Homo sapiens: one gene and its partners. The protein of the gene in region 1 interacts with the protein of each later gene in a pairwise test. Each region holds a gene or a part of one and is shown on either strand. Other genes may lie near its edges.

The links. The genes of interacting proteins can lie anywhere in the genome.
Region 2: the proteins of RFC5 (region 1) and CIMIP2B interact in binary tests that used the Homo sapiens proteins (3 or more experiments, as listed by UniProt).
Region 3: the proteins of RFC5 (region 1) and PPP1R16B interact in binary tests that used the Homo sapiens proteins (3 or more experiments, as listed by UniProt).

The regions. Positions count from the first base shown.
Region 1 is NC_000012.12:118,019,683-118,026,703, reverse strand, and holds part of RFC5 (replication factor C subunit 5), read right to left. Parts: coding exon 6,936-7,021; intron 5,799-6,935; coding exon 5,719-5,798; intron 4,419-5,718; coding exon 4,345-4,418; intron 1,854-4,344; coding exon 1,694-1,853; exon of another isoform or gene 1,690-1,693; intron 958-1,689; coding exon 876-957; intron 1-875. UniProt on the Homo sapiens protein: Subunit of the replication factor C (RFC) complex which acts during elongation of primed DNA templates by DNA polymerases delta and epsilon, and is necessary for ATP-dependent loading of proliferating cell nuclear antigen (PCNA) onto primed DNA.
Region 2 is NC_000009.12:35,561,325-35,568,660, forward strand, and holds CIMIP2B (ciliary microtubule inner protein 2B), read right to left. Parts: upstream 2,555-7,336; 5' UTR 2,505-2,554; coding exon 2,443-2,504; intron 2,235-2,442; exon of another isoform or gene 2,113-2,234; coding exon of another isoform or gene 2,066-2,112; coding exon 1,842-2,065; intron 1,757-1,841; coding exon 1,551-1,756; coding exon of another isoform or gene 1,519-1,550; intron 1,377-1,518; coding exon 1,325-1,376; intron 1,251-1,324; coding exon 1,056-1,250; intron 772-1,055; coding exon 683-771; coding exon of another isoform or gene 544-682; 3' UTR 507-543; downstream 1-506. Other genes in the region: AP-4 complex accessory subunit RUSC2, read left to right, coding at 1-58. UniProt on the Homo sapiens protein: Microtubule inner protein (MIP) part of the dynein-decorated doublet microtubules (DMTs) in cilia axoneme, which is required for motile cilia beating.
Region 3 is NC_000020.11:38,801,346-38,808,702, forward strand, and holds the start of PPP1R16B (protein phosphatase 1 regulatory inhibitor subunit 16B isoform 1 precursor), read left to right. Parts: upstream 1-4,351; 5' UTR 4,352-4,447; intron 4,448-7,357. UniProt on the Homo sapiens protein: Regulator of protein phosphatase 1 (PP1) that acts as a positive regulator of pulmonary endothelial cell (EC) barrier function. Involved in the regulation of the PI3K/AKT signaling pathway, angiogenesis and endothelial cell proliferation.

The sequences.
Region 1 (7,021 bases):
CTGTTGGCTATTCCAGTGCCAAATCCTTCCCTCCCTTTGCCTTCTTTGCAACAAATGATTCCTTTTGTTTTTAAAACATTTTCTTTTGCTCTCTCTTTGTTTTTTGAGACAGGGTCTTGCTCTGTTGCTCAGGCTGAAGTGCAGTGGCATGATCATGGCTCACTGTAGCCTCGACCTCCTAGGCTCAAGTCACCCTCCTGCCTCAGCCTCCTGAGTAGATGGGACTACAGGTGTGCACCGCCACACCTGGCTCATGATTTTTTAGTGGAGACAGAGTCTCACTATGTTGCCCAGGCTGGTCTCCAGCTCGTGGGCTCAGGCAATCCACCTCCCTCGGCATCCCTAAGTGCTGGGATTACAGGCGTGAGCCACCATACCTGGCCTGCAACAAGTGATTTTTTCAATTAATCAAAATACAAAGTGAGGAGGGGGAATCCTGCAGGTTATGAGACCAAGGTCTTACCAGCTGTAGATTTCAAAATTTACAGATTGATCATGCCTTTGCTTAGGTCTTTCTTCAAAAACTATTACAAAACAATGACTCAGGATTTGCTGGGACCAGGCTGGGCATGGTGGCTCATGCCTGTAATCCCAGCACTTTAGGAAGCTGAGGCAGATGGATCATTTGAGGTCAGGAGTTCGAGACCAGCCTAACCAACATGGCGAAACCCCATCTCTACTAAAAATACAAAAATTAGTAGGGCGTGGTGGCGGGCACCTGTAATCCCAGCTGCTCAGGAGGCAGGAGATTCGCTTGAACCCAGGAGGCGGAGGTTGCAGTGAGCTGAGATTGTGTTGCTGCACTCCAGCCTGAGCGACAGAGCAAGACTCTGTCTCAAAAAAAAAAAAAAAAAAGGATTTGCTTGAGACCATACCTGCAAAATGTTCAGAGCCCTACGCATGTCTCCACTGGAAAGAGTGACTAGTGCTTTCATTCCATCTTCACTTATATCAACTCTGAAAGAAATAAGCAAAAGGGATTTATGAGGCCCCCTGAGAGCACCAGCATTCACCAAAGGAACAAGATGGCCTGGAATGATTAAGGCTTTAAAGGGATGAAGGAAGGAGAGGAACAGAGTTAATAATCTCCTGATCTATATGATCTAGAATTCACTCTGGTTTTTAGGGACCTGGGCTTCACATTAGTAGTCACAGCCAACCAAAATCGAGAACAGCCTGAATTTAGGAACAAGCATTCTCCCATGGAGCCAGTCGTCTTGAATTCTGCTCTCTGGGGAGGACAGAGGCCTGGCACAAGCCATGATCACACAGCCGAAACTCCTCCTTCACAACAAGCAGCTGCTCAGGTCGGCTACTTGCTTGGCATCTGACTACACAGAATGTGATGTCTTAGAACCTTCCCTTCTAGTCTAAAAAGGCTGGAAGCATCTTTGCAGAAGGGACTCAGCAGCCTGCAGTTTCCAATGACAAAGAAGAGTAGGAGGAAATTGGGACAGCTTCCAGGGGAGGAGGATGGAATCAAGAAAAATGAAGTACCAAATGACTTTTATGAGGAATGGCCTTGAGACAGCAGAGAAAATGATAGCAGTGGACGGTCCCCAGTGCCTCCCCTGTGCTAGGCACTCTGCAAAGTCGTTTTCCAACATTCCTCTCCTCTACATACGAACCAGCCAGTGATCCCACAAGCCTGTTTCTACTACACTCCATCCCCAAAGGCCCGCAAAATACTCACTTCTCTTCTTCCACGACATGTTCCAGGCGGGGAACCATGAGTTCAGGAGTCAGGGGACCGAACCGAAACCTCGTGCAGCGGGACTGCAAGGCAGGGATGATCTTTGACAGATAGTTACAGATGAGGCAGAATCTGGTATTTTCTGTGAATTTCTCAATTACTAGTAAGAGAAAATAAAACCACCTCATGTCAAAGTCCATTCTGATTTTTCAGAGAGCCCAGAAAACTTGAATTTTTCTGTGGTCACAAGGGTATAGGAAAAGATTCAATACTGCAAACAAGTGAGGATGTTGGCCGGGCGTAGTGGCTTAGTGGCTCACGTCTGTAATCCCAGCACTTTGGGAGGCTGAGGCGGGAGGATCACTTGAGGTCAGGAGGTTTGGCCAACATGGCAAAACCTCTACTGAAAATACAAAATTTAGCCAGGTGTGGTGGCACATGCCTGTAATCCCAGCTACTTGGGAGGCTGAGGCAGGAGAATTGCTTGAATCCGGGAGGTGGAGGTTGCAGTGACCCAAAATCATTCCACTGCACTCCAGCGTGGGCAACAGAGTGAGACTCTGTCTCAAAAAAGAAAGAATGTAAACAAGTGAGGCTGCAGCCTATGACAAGACAGGGCAGTGCTGGCCTGTTCAGATCAGAGATTAGCCACTCCTCTTTTTTCTTTTTTGAAACAGAGTCTCGCTCTGTTGCCCAGGCTGGAGTGCAATGGCACGATCTTGGCTCCCTGCAACCTCTGCCTCCCGGATTAAAGCGATTCTCCTGCCTCAGCCTCCTGAGTAGCTGGGACTACAGACACGTGCCACCACGCCCGGCTAATTTTTTATATTTTTAGTAGAGACGGGGTTTCACCATGTTAGCCAGGATGGTCTCGATCTCCTGACCTCATGATTCGCCCGCCTTGGCCTTTGGGATTACAGGCATGAGCCACTGTGCCAGGCCAATTTTTGTATTTTTAGTAGAGATGGGGTTTCATCGGTTAGCCAGGCTGGTCTCGAACTCCTGACCTCAGGTGATATGCCTGCCTCAGCCTCCCAAAGTACTGGGATTACAGGTGTGAGCCACTGCGCCCTGCCTAGCCACCCCTCTTTCACAAACTGGTAAACATGCCTCCGTGGGATTTTACAAAATGCTTCCTTTTTACCATTTGCCATGATTCTGGCACTTTTGCCATGTAATCCCATTAAGACTATGAGACTTCTTGTCCTTTTACATAAAATTATATTTGGCAGGTTGATGACACTTCACCTTCTATGGGCAGGGAGGGCGGCTTTTTGCAGACTTTTCCATGGAGACTGTCTGGAGGCCTTAGAGCACTCAAGGGAGCAATAACCCGAACAAAGAGTTGCTTATGACACCGGTTCCATTCTGTAGGTACCCAATGTTCTCACATGGGGATCTGCCCAGAATGACAGTCACTCGGCAGAACAAGATGCCGAAGAAAGGCTGCCAAGCTTCTAGGACCAGAAGATATTCTCGCTGTCCTCCTCCTCCTCCTCCTCCCCCACCTCTCCTCCTCCACCTCCCCCTACCCTCCTCCTCCGCCTTCTCCTCCCCCTCCTCCTCCTCACCCCCTCCTCTTCCTCCCCTCCTCCCCCCTCCTCCTCCTCCCCCTTCCCCCATCCTTCTCTTAACATGTGCTGCCATCTACTCCCTCGCCACAAACTCCTAAAGATCGTTCTTCTCTCAAAGCTGATTCACTTGGAATCTTAATGAGAGATGACAAGTGTCCTTTAAGAGAAAAGAACTGCGCTAGGCCCCTGAAGACAGACAAATCGCAGGGTGCTGTCCCTCCCGCTGCCAAATCATTCACTTGGCAAGCAGTGAAGTAATATCAGCTCTCTGAGCACCTCAACTTCAGATATGCTTTTCCTAGCCATTGTGGTTCAAAGGGTACCATTAGTAGAAAGGAGAGGGTACTATTAGCAGAAGGACTATCTGATAGCTTAAGGATGAAAGATTTTCCACACCCCATCCCACGGAAAGATATGAATTCCCAACTCTGAAATTGAACCCAGTGTCAAAGGAGGTTGAACACCAGTGACTGGCCAGACTTAAAAGTCCCCGCAGGGCTTAGTCCCTAGGCTGCTGAAGGGGAAGTCCCGCTACAGAGGTATCTAGCCTGTGTCATTAGATGGGAGACACAGAGAAAGGCATAGAGATTTCTCTGGGCCAGAAGATGAAAACTGAAAACAAGCCAAGCCATATCTCACATCCTAATTCTCCTGTAATCCCAGCACTTTGGGAAGCTTAAAGTTCCTAATTCTCCTGTAATCCCAGCACTTTGGGAAGCCGAGGCGGGCGGATCACCCAAGGTCAGGAGGTCGAGACCAGCCTGGCCAACATGGTGAAACCCCATCTCTACTAAAAATATAAAAATCAGCCGGGTGTGGTGGTGCATGCCTGTAATCCCAGCTACTCAAGAGGCTGAGGTCAGAGAATCGCTTGAACCCAGGAGGCAGAGGCTGCAGTGAGCCAAGATTGCGCCACTGCACTCCAACCTGGGTGACAGAGCAAGACTCTGACTCAAAAAAAGAAAAAAAAACTCCCCCCCGCCTAAAAAAACAATGACAACAGCAACAAACACAAAGTTCCTAATTCTCCTTCCAGTGTGCACACCAGCCCAAACGCTCCACAGTGCCTCTGCTTACCTCTTCTCAAGGCATTCTGGGCGTCCTGAGTCATGGCGTCTGCTTCATCCAAGATCACTAGCTTAAAGCCTTTCCTAGAAAAACAAATGGTGCTGTCTAAAGATTTCTTCAATCTCATCTCAACATCTGGGCTCAAACCTATATCTTCCCATTGTGCCATCGGGCCCTGTCTCAGAAAGACAATTTCTTCTAGAACTTTGGCCAAGGCAGACATCTTTGGTCACTCAGAGAGGAAATGCCGCATCACTCCTTCAACCCTTGGTGGGAATGGAGGAGACTTCTCTACTTCTGTGCGCTGTGTCCTCTGGCATCTTCACTTTCCTCCACATGGCACCCTACCATGCTACTGCTTTTCCCGTCTCCCTCACTCATGCCTGAGTCCCTCACCCTTTTGCTTTTTTTGAGACTAAGTTTTTGCTCTGTTGCCCAGGCTGGAGTGCAGTGCCGCGATCTTGGCTCGCTGCAACCTCTGCCTCCTGGGTTCAAGCGATTCTCCTGCCTCAGCCTCCTGAGTGGCTGGGATTACAGGCGCCCACCACCATGCCCAGATAATTTTTGTATTTTTAGTAGAGACGAGGTTTCACTATGTTGGCCATGCTGGTCTTGAACCCTTGATCTCAGGTGATCCACCTGCCTAGGCCTCCCAAAGTCCTAGGATTACAGGTGTGAGCCACTGCGCCCGGCCCTCACCCTTTTTCTTTCTTTCTTTTTTTTTTTTTAGCCACCATCCTAGTTGTCCTTCCTGATCTCAATTTATTTTTAAATTCAAACTAGCTCATCCAGTCTTAGGGTAATCTAGCCAGTTCTCAGGAACTAAAAATGAAGTTAATGCTCCCTAAAGAACTTGGTAATGCAGGCTGGGCTCACGTATGTAATCCCAGCAGTTTGGGAGGCTGCGGCGGGCAGATTGCTTGAGCTCAGGAGTTCGAGACCAGCCTAGGCAACATGGCAAAACCCCATGTCTACTAAAAAATACAAAAATTAGTTGGGCGTGATGGCTCACGACTGTAGTCCCAGCTACTTAGGAGGCTGAGGCTGGAAGATCGCTTGAACCCAGGAGGTGGAGGTTGCAGTGAGCCGAGATCATGCTACTGCACTCCAGCCTGTACGATACAGGGCGACCCTGTCTCCAAAAAAAAAAGAAAAAAAAAACAAACTTGCTAATACAAGCGTAGATAACATTTTATTTTAACAGTTGCATTATAACGCTTCTTACTACCATCCCTCTCGTTTATCTCTTTTCCATGGTTGCTTTGGACAAAGTCACTTTTTTTTTCAACCCATATAAACTGGCTAAGGAGAGGATTAAAAAATTAACCCATATCATCTTACTAATCAAAATCAAGGGAGCGAAATTACACAAATAATTCTTACTTAAATATTGTCCTTGTGCTAGCAAAGCTCAGGATCGGTCCTCGAATGATGTCTATTCCTCGGTCATCTGAAGCATTCAGCTAAATGTGGAAGACAGAAGACAAAACAAAAACCATGTTGCTGTGCTATCTGTGAGTTCTTGGTGTTAGTGTATTTCCTCATCAGTCCAGCTCAGCAGGCTAGCTCTCTATGTCTAATGATGGCTAAGAGATCATCATAAAATAAAAAATCAGTTTTACACAAAATTCACTAAATTAATAAAGATGGCTATATTACCCCCACCCTTTGAGGACAATGACTGACATAAATTGGAGAAATAATTAATTGGTATGGTTACACTGAACAGCACCTCTGGTATGAGCAGAATGATACAAATTTCAGCTACCACAATCCTAAGTTACCAAGTTCTTAATAAACTGAAATAAGGACATTAGTAGCAGCAAAGTTCTGAGACCTGCGTCTAAAAAGTAAGTTAAACTTTTCTTGCAATAGACAATACTCAGATTTTTGAATCTAAGTATATTAGTCAAGGTCCCAGCAATATACAGATGGCATACTCAAATGCAGCAATTTGAAGAGAATTAAACAAGATCTTTTTAAAGGTGTGATATAGGAAAACCATGGGGCTATGCAATACCTGTCACCCTTGAGCCTGAAGGGCTTAGTGAAGGGAGTGGCTGTAGGCACCTGGAGAGGGCTGCAGGAAAGGTACCACCTGTGAGATGTACCCTACAGGTGGGCCATGCTGCCAGCCTGTGTCAGCCCCCAGGGAAGGCCCAGGCATCACTCACTTCCTTCCCCCACCCCTGCCAAGGCCCCTATTGGCCAAACCCAACCAGGAGCCAGAGGGTAAGTGAGCTTATAGTCAGTAGGGCTCAGCCTTCCAGGCAGGAATATGGTGGAGAAACGTGGAGAATTGATCTAGAGGGGCCATGGCAGACAGGCAGCAACCAAGTCACCATAAAGTAAGGTTTGGGGAGAAGTTGGCAAGAGCAAAGAAAAAGGTGCCAAACCCTACAACTGCCCTCTAGCTGACCAACGCTAATCCAGACCAAAATGACCATTATAGGAAAAAGGGAATTAAAATATTCAAATTTACTTCTTTCCTAACTGTCCGTGGGGCAACTTACTTTTAAAGTAAAATAAAACCAGCAGAACTGAAATTAAGAGACTGGAGTCTCTTAAGTTATTTGTAGAGTAAGAACAATCTTATTTACCTCCAAGACCATGGAGCCAAATTCTTTGTCTTTATATAGCTGTTTCGCACAGGCTAGGATGGTAGATGTCTTGCCTGTCCCTGGGG
Region 2 (7,336 bases), on another chromosome or scaffold:
GGCCTACGTGACATTGACCCCAACTCCAAGTCCAACCCCTGGAAGCAGCCAAAACTGAGGCCCTGTGCATGCTGGTGGCCTCAGGGACCCTCATAACCCCCAGACTCAGAGCCCGAGAGCCCTTCCCAAGCCATTGGCTTGGCTGCAGAGTAGACTGAGAGCTGGGGCCACGTATCCCTGTGCTGGCACCTGCTCCCTGTGCTCAGTATTAATTACGCCCCCTTAACTGTCCCAGTGACCTTGTCCAGACCTCCACCCAGGAGAGGGATGGGACACAGCACTGGGCTGCCAGGATTCCCCTGGCCCGTCTGGGCCAACCCTTCCATGGGTGAAGACAAGCAAGTCCCCCTGGAGGCGGGTGGCCCAGAAAGCCATCTACAGGGTTCCCTAGGCCAGGTGGAGATGAGGATGGGTAACAGTATTGGGGCCAGATCCCTAAGCCCCCCAGCTGTAAATAGGCTGTGGCCAGTGCCTGGTCATCAGAAGAGGGAGGAGGAGCCCAGGCGTCTGTTTATGTATTTATTTATTTATTTATTATACCTATTAATAAAAAAGGTGCTCAGCCTCCAAACCATTTTCTCTTTGTGTTCCCCCACCCTCCCACCCTCCCACCCACCTCTCTCCCTTCCAAAAGGATGGCTGGGATAGGATGAAAAGGGAAGGGAACTTGATGTCCAGTGGCCTAAGCCAAGAGCTGCTTCTGGAAGGTGCTGAGGCCCAGAGCATCATGGGTGAGATGGCCAAATGTGTGGCCAAACTGGAACTTATACCCTGTGTGGCCAAGAGAGTCTGTCACATGTAGCAAGTGGCATGGCAAAGCCATTTAATTCTCAGCCAGTTGGCTAGACCTCCAAACAGCCCTCTAAAATCTGGCCCTAATTCCCCACTGTGGGTAGCTACCTCGGTTTCCTTTTCTGCCTGATAATAAAGCTGAACCACATGATCTGAGCCCTCCCATATCTATTAGTTTCAACCCCCACAAACCACCCAACCCACCCCATACCCATACAAACAAACATTCCAGTCCCCAAAGCCTCCCCGGGGGCTCTTCTCACCTGGCACGTAGCCCCCATAGTTAGGTAAAAGACCCAGGTTCTGAGGGTATGTTCTGGGAAGTGGGGGGAGATGTTTGGGGTCCTGGGCACTGCCTGGTGAGTGCTTCTGCCCAAATTCCTGCAGTGCCTGGTTGGTGAGCACAGGAAAGCTGGAGCCGAAGAGGAAGCGGGCGCAGGGCACATAGCCAGTGAAGCCTGAGGATGGGGACACTGAGCCAAGGCATCCTGGGGCCTCCCCACGCCTCTGATCCTGACCCCCCAGCTCTCACCTGACATGAAGAACTTCCGAGGGTCCCTGTCATCCATGGAGTAGGGAGAAGCCTGTGAGAGAAGCCCCTGTGCTGTCACACAATCTCCCAAGGAGGTGGAGCTGACAATCAAGTGCACATCCCCTGAACCCACAGCCACACTACTCATGCTGCCCCCACTGCCCGGACACACAGTAAGACCCCCACTCCCACACCTCTGCACTCCCCACCAGCTTCTTGGTCTCACTTGTTCCACCACCTCCAGTGTCGGCTCCTCCAGCTGCCCCTCCGGCTCTGGCACCTGGTCCTTCTCTGTGTCCTTTCTTCCCTTGGCCTCCTTTGGTAGCTCTTCACTCCCTTGCTTTTCATGCAAGTGAGTAAAGTCACTCAGAGCCTCGGCCCAGACCTGGCTGCAGTTCTTGGCAAAGATGAACTGTGCCCGGGGTACAAAACCTGGGCAGGCAGGGACAAGGAAGACTCGTTAGTGTTTGGAACACATGCTCCTGGGAGGGGCACCTGTGCATACCTGCGTACAAACCTGTGTACCCAGGGATCATGCTGGAGCTGAGCCTTTCTTGCCCACGCCTGACAGGTAGACTCTCCCTGGGAACCTCAGGAGATCTTGGAGGCCGAATGGGAGGCAGAAGTGTGCGGTGGACAGGGGGCCAGGCTAGGCCAGGAGGGCCTCGAAGTAGCTGACCAGTCACCTGCCCATAGGTCTGGCCCACGCTGAACCGAAGTAGTGGGCAGTGTCCAGTGTACCTGCAGCACAGACTCTCCCACTCACCAGAATCGCCCTGCCCCGCCATCCCCAGAGGCAGAAGCGGAGACCTCTGAAGCCCTGATCTTTCTGGACTCAGCAGTGTATATATTTGGAGCAGGCATTTCTAAGTTCTCTGCCTGGGCTTTCGATCCTTCCTCTGCTGTTACCCTGTTCCCATGGAGAGAACAACACAAAGCTTTGGGGCAGACCCGGTGTCTCACTAGTCCCTTGCTTCTCCTTTTCCATCCACCACCATAGAGACCTCAGCCTCCCAAACCAACCTGTCCGCTTGGCCCCATGCTCTAAGCAGCTTAATTCCTCCACCCTATACCCCTACTCCCAGCAGCAAGCGGGGAGCGCTAAGTGGGAGTCTTACCCTGGGATATAATGAGGGTTCTGAGGGTTGAGCCCTGGTATGAAGGTGCTGGCCACAGCCATGGGGAGCCGGGCATTTCCTTTTGTTTGCCTTTGAGCCAAGGCTCTGGTCTGTGTGTACCGTGTCCAGGGCTGTGGGGCTAGAGGAAGGAGGCGGGGCTAAGGGAGGAGAGAAGGGAGGGGGCACTCGTGTGAGGACAGCCAGGGCGAAGGCCGGCAGAACTGTAGAGCAGAGGCTAGCAGGTCTGTCTGTCCAGGACAAAGGTGGTCCTGCTCGTGGGGCAGGGCCCGAACCGAAGGAAGCCCTGAGGTGGGACGTGGGAGGTGGGACGTGGGAGGTGAGGGAGCAGAAACCATTCGGGCCACTGAGCTCTGTCTCAGCGACTTCCTTCCTGAGCGCCTGCCTGAGAGGTGGACACTGTGTTCCTCATGAGTCTTCATCAAAGGAGATGGGGGACCTGGAGAAAGGATCTTTGAGGGAAGCCAGGGCCCAGAGGGGAGGTGAAAGAGGACAGGTGATGGGGGAAAAAAAGGAACCTAGACACCTCTAGGGAGTAACATCGTTTATTTTCAATAATTTAACAAGAGTGGCTTACTGAATACCTGCTATAATCAGAGTCATCCATTCAACAAATGAGCCAGGCTCTGCCAGGCTCCGGCCACAGTGGCCGAGTGTGCACTCCATGGGAGCCAGAAAAGCTGTGGGGGTTGAGGGAAGGAAACAGGATAAAGTTGTTGTAGGTGTGGGCGGTAACACTAGGGAGCAAGTTAGAATTTGTTAAAAAAATAAAATAAAATAAAAAATTCGGATTCTAAGAGAAGAAAAAGCACAGACCAGGAAGATGAGATCTCAGAGGACGGGGAAACATGTTTAAAACCCAACTCTGGGCCGGGTGCAGCCACGCTCACATCAACGTACTGAGGAGGCTGAGGTGGGAGGATCACTTGGGTCCGGGAGTTTCAGTCCAAACTGGGCAACACAGCCAGACCCCACCTCAAAAAACAAAACAAAACAAAAAGTTCTGGGGCTGGGTCAGGGCCAGGCTGAGGGCTCAGGGCCCACGTTTCTGAGGCAGAGCTCTGCTCTTCTCCCCACCTCCAGTGACCATGCCTGCGCTGACCAAGGACGGCACTGACATCCCAGGGGAATTACATAAGAGCACTGGGCTCCAAGGCACACATTTCATGTTCCTCACTGTTCTGCCAAGGACAGCCTTAGAATGTGTCATTTAGAGTTGTGGGGACTTACCTCACAGCTGAGGAAATATGTTAGAGTGAGGATGGGAGCCGAGGGGCAAGCCCAGAATAGCAGCAGTGTGTCAAGCTTAACAACCAGACTTGGGATTCTGTGACAGACACTATCACAGCTTATACCTATTCCTGACCCCCATCTCCTTTCTTCCGAGGAGCCAGAAACTGCATCAGGGAGGCTTGGAGAGCCAGCCTGGAGGAATGAGCTGGATTAGTCTAAGCGTGGTCCCATGCTCCTTCCCCATGACCGCTTAGGCACGGGCTTCCAGCATTCTGGATAATATGAGGGGAAATCTGCTGGGGCAGGGGAGGGTCCTGGGAAAAGTTTCTTTGCTCTTAAAGAAAAGATTCACATCAAATTAGAGCAAGTGAGAGAGACAGAGATGCGCAAGACGAAACGATGTCCATTCCTGCCCCTAGACTTTTGGGGGATGTGAGGCTGGAATGCTGGCAGGCATGTGGAAGCCTTGTGGAAAGCTAACCTGAAGACAAGTCCTGGACACATCAAGGATGGATGGTAGAGGAGAAAGGCCAGGGTCCTGAGGGTAATGTAGAGCCATGGAATTAATCAGCCTTTTTATGTCAAATAGTAAATTTCATTATTAAGGCCACTTTAAGTTTTCTTTCACTTACAGCCAAAGGCATCATAACTTTAAAAAACAAAACAGCCAGGCACGGTGGCTCACACCCTTAATCCCAGCACTTTGGGAGGCCGAGGCAGGAGGATCACAAGGTCATGAGTTCGAGACCAGCCTGGCCAACATAGTGAAATCCTGTCTCTACTAAAAATACAAAAATTAGCCAAGCGTGGTGGTGGGCACCTGTAGTCCCAGCTACTCAGGAGGTTGAGGCAGGAGAATCACATGAACCCAGGAGGTGGAGCTTGCAGTGAGCTGAGATCGCACATTGCACTCCAGCTTGGGCAACAGAGTGAGACTCCGTCTCAAAAACAAAACAAAACAAAAAAACACCACTAGATCAAATCCTAGCTTCACCAGAGATATAGACTTTGTCCAAATTCATCTCATTGAGCCTCAGTTTTCTCATCTGTAAAATGGAAAAACTAATGTTACCATCTCATAGAGTAGGATATCAGCTAGCTGAGATGATACACAATGAGCAATGACCCCAGCGTCTAGCTTACGGTAAGTGCTAACTAAACAGCAATTCACGGCTAGCATTTGGCAGGAATGGGAGGAAGGAAAGGAGCTGGGAGCAGTCACAGATGTTAGAGGTTCAGGGGAAAGGTTCATGAAATTGAAAAAGGGAAAGGTTTGAATGGAAGTTGGGGTATAAATTAGGATGTAGGGACTAGAACACATTCTGCAGAAAAGACCATGGCAGTTAGAATCCGGGTATGCGTTAAAACACAAGTTAGGAAACAGATTAGGATTAGTCTTAGGTTTATGGCTTATGAAGAAACAGCTCTATCCAATTGGTAGAATGGCCTGTTACTATGATTGTTTCCATCTGAATAAAGAATATTTCTAGATCCCTGAAGGGTGTTCTAATCTGAGAAAGGAGTGACGGGGCCAGCTGAGGCACCACAGGAATGCTTGCTGCCTCTGTGCCTCCTTCCAGGGACAGACATCACAGAAACATGACCACAACTTGCTCTGATGGGAGCTGCCACACCCAGTGGCCAGTGTTGGATGTGGCAGTGGAGAGAAAATGTTTAACTGGAGACAGCGCCCCACTCAGTCCACACAGCCTGCTGGGTCCCCACAATGGCAGCCTATAGCCTTCTGTTCTGCCTTTGATTCTGACCAGGAACTGCTATAAAATTTCATACAGATCCCAAATCAATCATTTGATTGTATGTCAACCCTAGGCAAGCATAAATCCCCTCTGCAAGGATGAATAAAAGAAAATCACAGGACCTTTGAAAAAATTCCTGAAATCAACAGTCCACCAAAATTGAAACAAGAATTGAATAAACTCCAAAAGATTACATGCAACACAAAACCTTTTTTAGTTTGAAAAATACATGCAGATGCATAAAACTGCATAAAAAGGAAAGCAAGGGAATGATAAAAATGGGTTTCAAATGCTCACCTCAGATGGTGAGAAACAAAAGGGGTGGGAAAGGGGGAACCACATAGTTAGATGTATGTTATTGTCAAAGTTTCAGTTTTTGTTTGGGATGATGTTTTCAAAAATGCTTATAATGGGCCAGGTGCAGTGTCTCATGCCTGTAATCCCAACACCTGGGGAGGCCAAGGTGGGCAGATTACTTGAGGTCAGGAATTCGAGACCAGCCTGGCCAATATGGCAAAACCCCATCTCTACTAAACATACAAAAATTAGCCAGGTGTGGTGGCACACACCTGTAATCCCAGCTACTTGGGAGGCTGAGGCAGAAGAATCACTTGAACCAGGAGGCAGAGGTTGCAGTGAGCCGAGATCATGCCACTGCACTCCAGCCTGGGTGACAGAGCATGACTCTGTATCAAAAAAAAAAAAATGCTTATAATGCATACATTATAACAAAGTATGAACTAATGATGAGAATGTGCCAAACCAAAGATTATGACAATTGAAATCTATGCTTTTGAGGTCCAAAGAGGTGTGGTGGAGGGAATCCAAGTAGAAATGACAAGGAATCATGGTATTTGGAGGGATCGAAGGAAAGGAAATGGCCTGGTCTCTATTCTACCTTTTTCTACCTTTTTGGTTTTTTTCTTTTTTTGAGATAGGGTCTCACTCTGTCACCTAAGCTGGAGTGCAGTGGCATAATCTCAGCTCACTACAACCTTCGCTTCCTGGGCTCAAGTGATCCTCCCACCTCAGCCTCCAGAGTAGCTGGGACTACAGGTGCATGCCACCACACCCGGCTAATTTTTGTATTTTTTTTTTTTTATAGAGATAGGGTTTCACCATGTCCAAGCTGGTCTTGAACTCCTGGGTTAAAGCGATCCACCCTCCTCAGCCTCCCAAAGTGCTGGAATTACAGGCGTGAGCCACCGCACCTGGCCTGGATTTTTTATGTATATAACACTCCTCAAATCCACAAGGATCAATATTCATTTATTCAGCCTACTTATTAAATATTTCTACTAGGCAGTTGCCTTATAGATCAATACAGACAATGCCTGACCTCAGTGATCGAACCACTTTAAAGAAGAGACAGAGGTACAGAGAAAGGCAGAATAAAATAAATACCACAATGAAGATCTAAACAAAAACAACTGATCTTATAATAGGCCATGAAGAAAAATCTCAAAAATTCCAAGAAGCACAATAAACCACATTTCCTCACACAAACACAATTTTAAAATTTTAAAATAGGCTAAACAAACAACCAACCTAACACTTAGACATTTAAAAATACTCCCTTGAGCTGGGCGTGGTGGTGCATTCCTGTAATCCCAGCTGCTTGGGAAGCTGAGGCGGGAGGATGGCTTGAGCCCAGAAATTTGAAGCTGTAGGGCGGCGCTATGATCACATCTGTGAATAGCCACTGCACTCCAGCCCAGGCAACACAGTGAGACCCTGTCTCTTAAAGAAATAAAAATTAAAATTAAAAAAAAAACAAAAACACCTTAACCCTTGGGGCAAAGAAAAAATTCCAGTTATACACAATTATTTATAAATAAATGAGAATTCAATCAAAGATGAATTCAGAGGCAACTTTTAGCCTCAAA
Region 3 (7,357 bases), on another chromosome or scaffold:
TCCTATAAATACAATCATATAATATGTGTATGGCCTTGGAACTGGCTTCTTTCACTCAGCACAAGGTTTTCAAGGTTCATTCACGTTGTGGCATGTGCTTCATTCATTTTGATTGCCAAGTAATAGTGGATTGTACCGTGTTTTATTTATCCATTATCATTTGATGGATATTTGGATTGTTTCCACTTTTTTTTTTTTTTTTTTTTTTGAGACGGAGTCTCGCTCTGTCGCCCAGGCTGGAGTGCAGTGGCGGGATCTCGGCTCACTGCAAGCTCCGCCTCCCGTGTTCACGCCATTCTCCTGCCTCAGCCTCCCAAGTAGCTGGGACTACAGGCGCCCGCCACTACGCCCGGCTAATTTTTTGTATTTTTAGTAGAGACGGGGTTTCACCGTTTTAGCCGGGATGGTCTCGATCTCCTGACCTCGTGATCCGCCCGCCTCGGCCTCCCAAAGTGCTGGGATTACAGGCGTGAGCCACCGCGCCCGGCCTTGTTTCCACTTTTTAGCTGTTGTGAATAATGCTACTATGAACATTTGTGTACAAATTTTTGTGTATGTATGCTTTTATTTCTCCTGAGTATATACCTAGGAGTAGAATTGCTGGGTCATCTGGCAACTCTATGTTTTAAATTTTGAGGAAATGCCATACTGGTTTTCAAAGCAGCGGCACCATTTTACATTTCCACCAGCAATGTATGAAGGATCCAATTTCTCCATATCCTTACCAATGCTGGTTATTGCCTATCTTTTTTATTATAACCATCTTAGTGGGTATGAAGTGGTATCTCATTGTGGCTTTGCATTTCCTTCATTGCTAATGATGTTGAGCATCTTGGCCATGTGTATATCTATCTTCTTTGAAGAAATGTCTATCCAGATCCCTTGGCCTTTTTTTTTTTTTTTTTTTTTTTTTTTTTTTTTGAGACTGGGTCTCGCTCTGTCGCCCAGGCTGGAGTGCAGTGGTGTGATCTTGGTTCACCGCAACCTCTGCCTCCCAGGTTCAAACAATCCTCCCACCTCAGCCTCCCCAGTAGCTGGGACTACAGGCCCATGCCATCATGCCCAGTTAACTTTTTGTATTTTTAGTAGAGTCAGGGTTTTGCCATGTTGCCCAGGCTCCTTGCCCATTTTTTATTATTTGTCTCTTTATTATAGAGTTGTAAGAGTTCCTTATATATTCTAGATATAAGTCCCTTACCAGGAATATGATTTGCAAATATTTCCTCCCGTTCTGTGGGATATTGTATTATTTTGCCAAGGCTGCCATAACATAATACTATAGACTGGGTGGCTTAAACAACAGAAATTGGCTGGGTGCGGTGGCTCACACCTGTAATCCCAGCACTTTGGGAGGCCGAGGTGGGTGGATCACTTGAGGTCAGGAGTTTGAGACCAGCCTGGCCAACATGGTGAAACCCTTACTCTACTAAAAATACAAAAATTAGCCGAGCGTGGGGGCATGCACCTGTAATCCCAGCTTCTCAGGAGGCTGAGGCAGGAGAATCGCTTGAACCTGGGAGGTGGAGGTTGCAGTAAGCCAAGATCGTGCCACTGCACTCCACCCTGGGCAGCAGAGTGAAACTCTATGTCAAAAAAACAAAACAAAACAAACCCCCAGAAATTTATTCCTCACAATTCTGAAGGCTACAATTCTGAGATCAAGGTGTTGGCAGGTCTGGTCCCCCAGCCCTGAGTCCTCTCTCCTTGGTTTGTAATTAACCTTCTTCTCCCTGTGCCTTCCTCTGGTCTTTCCTCTGTGTGGCGCATCTCTAGTGTCTCTTCTTATGAGGACACCAGTCATTGGATGAGGGCCCCATCCAAGGGCCTCAGTTTAAGATGATCACCTCTTTAAAGACCTTATCTCCATCCACAGTTACATTCTGAGGTTCTGAGACTGTAACCAGTACAGTTCAGCATATGAATGGGGGTGAGGGGGCACACAATTCAGCTTATAACAGTTATTTTTTCACTCTCTTTTTGTTCTTTTTATGTTTAATTTTTTTTTTTTTTTTTTTTTAGAGACAGGGTCTTGCTCTGTCACCCAGGCGGGAGTACAGTAGCACCATCATAGCTCACTGCAGCCTTGAACTCCTAGGCAAAAGCAATCCTCTTAAATAGCTAGGACTACAATCATGAACCACTACGTCTGCCTAATTTTAAAAGAATTTGTAGAGACAGAGTTTCACTATGTTGCCCTGGCTGGTCTTGAGCTCCTGGCCTCAAGTAATCCTCCTATCTCCACCTCCCAAAATGCTGGGATTATAGGTGTGAGCCACCAGGCCCAGCCATAACTTTTCACTTTCTTGATGATACCCCTGAAAGCACAAAAGTTTTTAATTTATCTATTTTTTTTTCTTTTGTTGCTTGTGCTAATATCTAAGCAACTACTGTTTAATCCAAAGTCATGAAGATTTAGGCTTATGTTTTCTTCAGAGAGTTTTATAGTTTTAGCTCTTACATTTAGATCTATATGTTGCATATAGTATGAAGCAGGGATCCAAATTCATTCTTTTGCATGTGGATATCCAGTTGTCCCAGCACCATTTTTTGAAAACACTATTCTTTCCCCATTAAATTGTCTTGGCACTCTTGTTGAAAATCAATTGGCAGTAAGTGTAAGGGCTTCTGTCTGGACTCTCAGTTTTATTCCATTGGTCTGTATGCCCATCCTTATACCCGTACCACCCTGCCTTGATGACTGAAGTTTCCTAGTAAGTTTTGAAATCAGGACTTGTGAGTCCCCCAACTTATTCTGAATTTACTTTAACTTTTGATACCGAACACAGTGTGAGAGGTGAATGAACAGCATGACATTGGAGTTGGGAGCCCCCTCCCTCCAAAGGCCTTATTTTAGGAACACAGGCCCCAAGTGCCACACAAGCCTTGGAGAGATGGGTTCCCATCCTCTCAGCCCATGGCTCTTCATTATCAATCAATGGAAACATTCTTCGGAGAACAATGATTCCCTTGGGTTATTTTAAACATGGCTTTAAGTCTTCCCCACATGCTCTACTGTCTAATTGCTTTTCCTGAAACAGTGTCATTCACAACTGGATTATTAATGAACTGAGAGGGAGCCAGGGAGCCAATGAAGGGGGCTTACAGAGTTCCTGGAGAGGGCCTGGGGGCCTGGAACAAGTTCAACCCACAGATTTTCTCTCCCCCAAGAAAGGTGACTGAGCAAACAGAAAATCACTAAACTCAGGTGATGCTGGTGGCCTCAAAAGAATATTGCCAGTGAAAAAAAAAGGATTCGGGCGAGTTCCTCAAACATGACAGCTGAGAATCAAATTAACTGGGTACCATCCCCAAACTCCCCAAACTTAAACTCTGAATTTCCCCAGCTGGCTGGCCCTGGGGTGCCTAGGGCTCTCATCTGTAGGCCGGGAAAGCTCAGGAAACAAGGCCTTTGTGGAGAAGAGAAACCTATTGTTCTAAGGCCAGGGTTCAGCAAATGTGGATTCCAGAGAATGTTTGGGGAGGTTTTCTCTGCTTTGTTTATGAACTTTCTTTTCTCTTCCTGGGGTGGTGATGGTGGGGGGTGACTCTCAGCAACTTAAATAGTTAAACCCATTGTGTTGTAAAGAAAGGCTGGTGCACAGAGTGCAGAGGCCTTCAGCCCCAGAAAGAGGCTTGAATGAGGTGACAGAAGCCACCGGGTATGTTTTGCTTTTTATTTTTAGCGTTAAATCTCAGGGAAGCAGCCCCTATCTTCATCCTGCACATCTCAAAGGGCGTCAGACGTCAGCAGAGGTACGACCACTTCCTTCCTCCAGCGCTTCACCTCCCTTCTTTCCAGAAAGAGGAAATGATGCGAGTCCACACCGCAGGCCACAGCCCCCATGTCTCGGCCCCAGCAGCTGGGGGACCTGGCCCCACAGATCTGTCCCCAGCGCAAGGCCAGGGCCGGCCCCTGGACCTCCTGGGAAGCCTTCAGACTCAGGCCGCGCAGGCCTTCAAGCTAGGAACCCTGAGTTCCTGGCCCTGGCATTCATTCTGTGTGACCTTGAGCAGGTTACCACTCCTCTCTGGGCTTCAGGATTCCCGTCTGTCAAATGGGAGCAGGGATACCGTCCTTGGCTTCCCTCTTTCCATGGTCGGGGTGGGGGTTAGGAAAACTATTTTGGAGGAGGGGGCAGCGTTAGGAAAACTATTCCGAAGCCTGGCCACGTCCCAACCGGTTTCAACTTCCTGCAGCTCAGAAGAGGGGTCCCCACCCGAGAGCGCCGGGACCCTGTCCCGCGCTGCCTCCCAAGCCGGATGGGGTTGAGCGCGCCCACCCCAGTCCCAGGAGCTCAGGCCCCGCCTTGGGGGAGGAGCCGAGAGGCGGCGCGGAGGCTCGCGGCCGAGCAGAGCCAGCTCTGTCGCCGCTGGAGCAGCTGCGGCTCGGGGACCCACAGACACAGCCGGGGTCGGGAGCCGCCCGGGGCAGGGCTCGGGAGAGCGGGTGAGTTCCCCGGCGGCGCCACCACCCTCCTTGCGCTCTGCGGCTTCGCAGGGCGGGGGATGAGGATGGGGCGGGGAGGTGGTCCCAGCCTGCTATCACCTAGCTGGGGGCCGGGGCGCTTTGGCCAAGGGACGATAGCTTGAGATAAATGGGAGTGTGGGGACTCTGGAAAGACGGGTACCGAGAGCGCTAGGTCCGGGAGTCGGGCTGGAATGGGGGCGTTCTCCCCGGCCTCGCAATTCCTTGACGAGGCCAGGGGAGGGGGCGCATTGGCAGGTTGTTGGCTGCGGCCGTCGTAGACCGATCTTGGGGCGGGGAGGTGGGGTCCTCGGTCTGTTCTGGACTCATGGGGCCGCCGTCTGCCGGGGGTGCAATGCCGGGCGGCGGGAGCCACAGCGGACACCAAACAACCCCCCCCCGCGCACTCTCCCGGCCGGGCATGGTGGTGCCGCCCCCTCGCGTGGCGGGGCTTGGTCCTGGCGGGCAGCGGCAGGGCGCAGAGAGCGCTCCTGCCCGGGCGGGAAAGATCCCCAAGGCAGGCGCCTCCACCTGCAGACCCGCCCCGCCTCAGGATCCGGCTGACAGCACCAGCCAGCCCGGGGAGACCCCGCGAGTGGTAGTTCCCCGGGAGGGGCGCGCCCGGCCTCTCCCAGGGCCCCGTGCGCCGGCGGCTGGGTCCCCCGCGCCAGGAGCGCTCCCCTCTGGGCGACTCCGGCTCATCGATTCCGGCCCAGAGGAGCGCCCCCGGGCGCCGAGGATGGGCGGAGACGTGCAGCCGCCCCTGAGAGGTCGCCCAGAGGGGTCTCCCCAAGGTCACCCGGAGTGCCCAGGCTGAGCTGCCCAGACCGCCCCGGGTGGAGAGCCGGGAGGCAGGCGCTCGCTGCCCTCCTCCTTCCCCCATGTAGACTCCCTTCCTCCGCTCCCCCACCCCGGCCCGGCCTCCAGCTTCACTGGAGATGCTGATGATGCAGCTCCCAGCCCTTGGAGGATAATTGAGCCTGGGAGAGCTTTGAATCTGGCCCTCCTGAGACCCCAGGGCTGCGCCGCTGCCGCGCGCCAGGCCTGGGTCCCGGTGCTCCCGGGCACCTCAGGAGCGGAGGGAGAGGGATGTGGCTTCATCAGCGCTTCTAGGAACCGAAAACCGAGCTGCCTGCGCGCCCATGTGATTGCATTTCACATAAAGGGCCCCTGTTTTCACTGTCAGAAGAGCCCCCCAGCTCTCCGCGGCTCTGGACACCAGGTGCCGCCTCTGAATCACCCTCTGTGGAGGACCCGGGGCCCGGAGGTACAGGCGCCCTTTCCCGCAGGGCTCTCCCTGGAAAGGGCCTGCCGATGGCGGCCTCAGTCCGCAGGGGTACTTCCCTGTGTACCCTGCCATTTCCTGCGGCTGGTGAAGCACCGGAGAAAAACCGTCCATCTAGGAGGCCTCCTCCAAGGCTGGTAATAAAGCTTCTTAGCCCAGCCAGCGACTAGCTGTCTACTCGTGGGCAAGGTACTTGGCTTCTGGAGTCTCAACTGCCTCTAAGATACGGGGCTAACAGCCGCCAGGCTGTGGGGAGATGAGGGAGAGGCTGGGTGCAGCAGAGCGGGAGGATGAACACTCCTTGGCCAATACTGGCCGCCCTCGGGATTGGCTTTGAGTGGGGCGTGTCTCTCTTAGACAGGTGCAGAAGTGGAGCCCTGGTGGGTGGTTCTGCAGGGGCTGGGGGAGTTTCCACATCTTCCTCCCCCAGCTCTGTCATAAAAAGCCAGCTTGCAGGAGGCCGGTGGGGGCCAGCAAATCCTTCCAGCCGGCTGCCTGCTCACACGGCCCTTCCCACACAAATCTCCCATGCCCTTCTCTCCCACCTGTCACCCAAATCCCATCTTCCTGGCTGAGTCCCCAGGATGCTGGGGGCAAGATGTCAACCAGGCCACCCTGGACTGTCAACTCTGTGCCTACTTGTCTACTGGGGTCTACCTAACAGTGTTCCCCTGTCCTGGAACCTTCCTGGCTCCAGCTCTTCCCAGCCTCTGTAATGTCTTCTTTCCCCTCTTTTGGTCTCCTACCACCGTGACACTCATTAGTGGCTCTGTGGTTCATGTGTCAAGGGCCCCGTGCCATCTGTGCTCTCCAGATCATCCATGGCCTAGAAAGACACGGTAGGCAAGGCCCTGTGCCCACTCAGACTTTGCTCTCCCTGGTAATTGACGGAGTGGAGGTTAAATTCTAATCTAGCTGTTAAGTCATTTCAGGAGCTTGAGCCACAGGGCTAAGAGGATACTGATGTAGGCAGGTGGTTTTTCCTTAAAGCCAGAACCTTTCTCCTTTCTGCAGAGCCCATTTGAGCCCTTTGGAAACTAGGCCTATGTGTGATGGCCTCACAGAATCCTCACAACCCCGTGAAGTAGGCATTACTGATTCCCATTTTGCAGATGGGAAAACTGGGGCTCAGCTCCTCTCAAAACCAGCTCCATGCCCCAAGTGTAGCAACAGAGGCTGCAGCCAACCTGGTTTAGGAGAAGGCAGAAGGCACATACCTGAATTCAGGTGCTGTGCTTGGACTCTTGGGACCCCATCCCCCCAACCTTTCCCTCCCCTCTCCCAACCTAGCCACCACCCCTCCTGCACCCAGGACTCTTGTCACATTTGTTGACCAGGAGGTCCCAACTGGCACTCTTCCAGCAGAGACCAGGAAAACCTTCACTGTCCTGAGTGCATCTTAGCAATTGGGCTTCAAGAAGGGCTCGGACAAGCCTGCCTCTTACAGAAAGCTACGAGTATGAAGAGTGAGGGAGCCAGAGAGGTCTAATTTTAATTAGGGATCTATACCTAAAAGCTCTGTGACCCTGTATACATGACTTAATCTCTCTGAGTCTGGTTTTCTCATTTGTAAAATAGGTATCACAGTAATGCCTACTTTGTGGGAT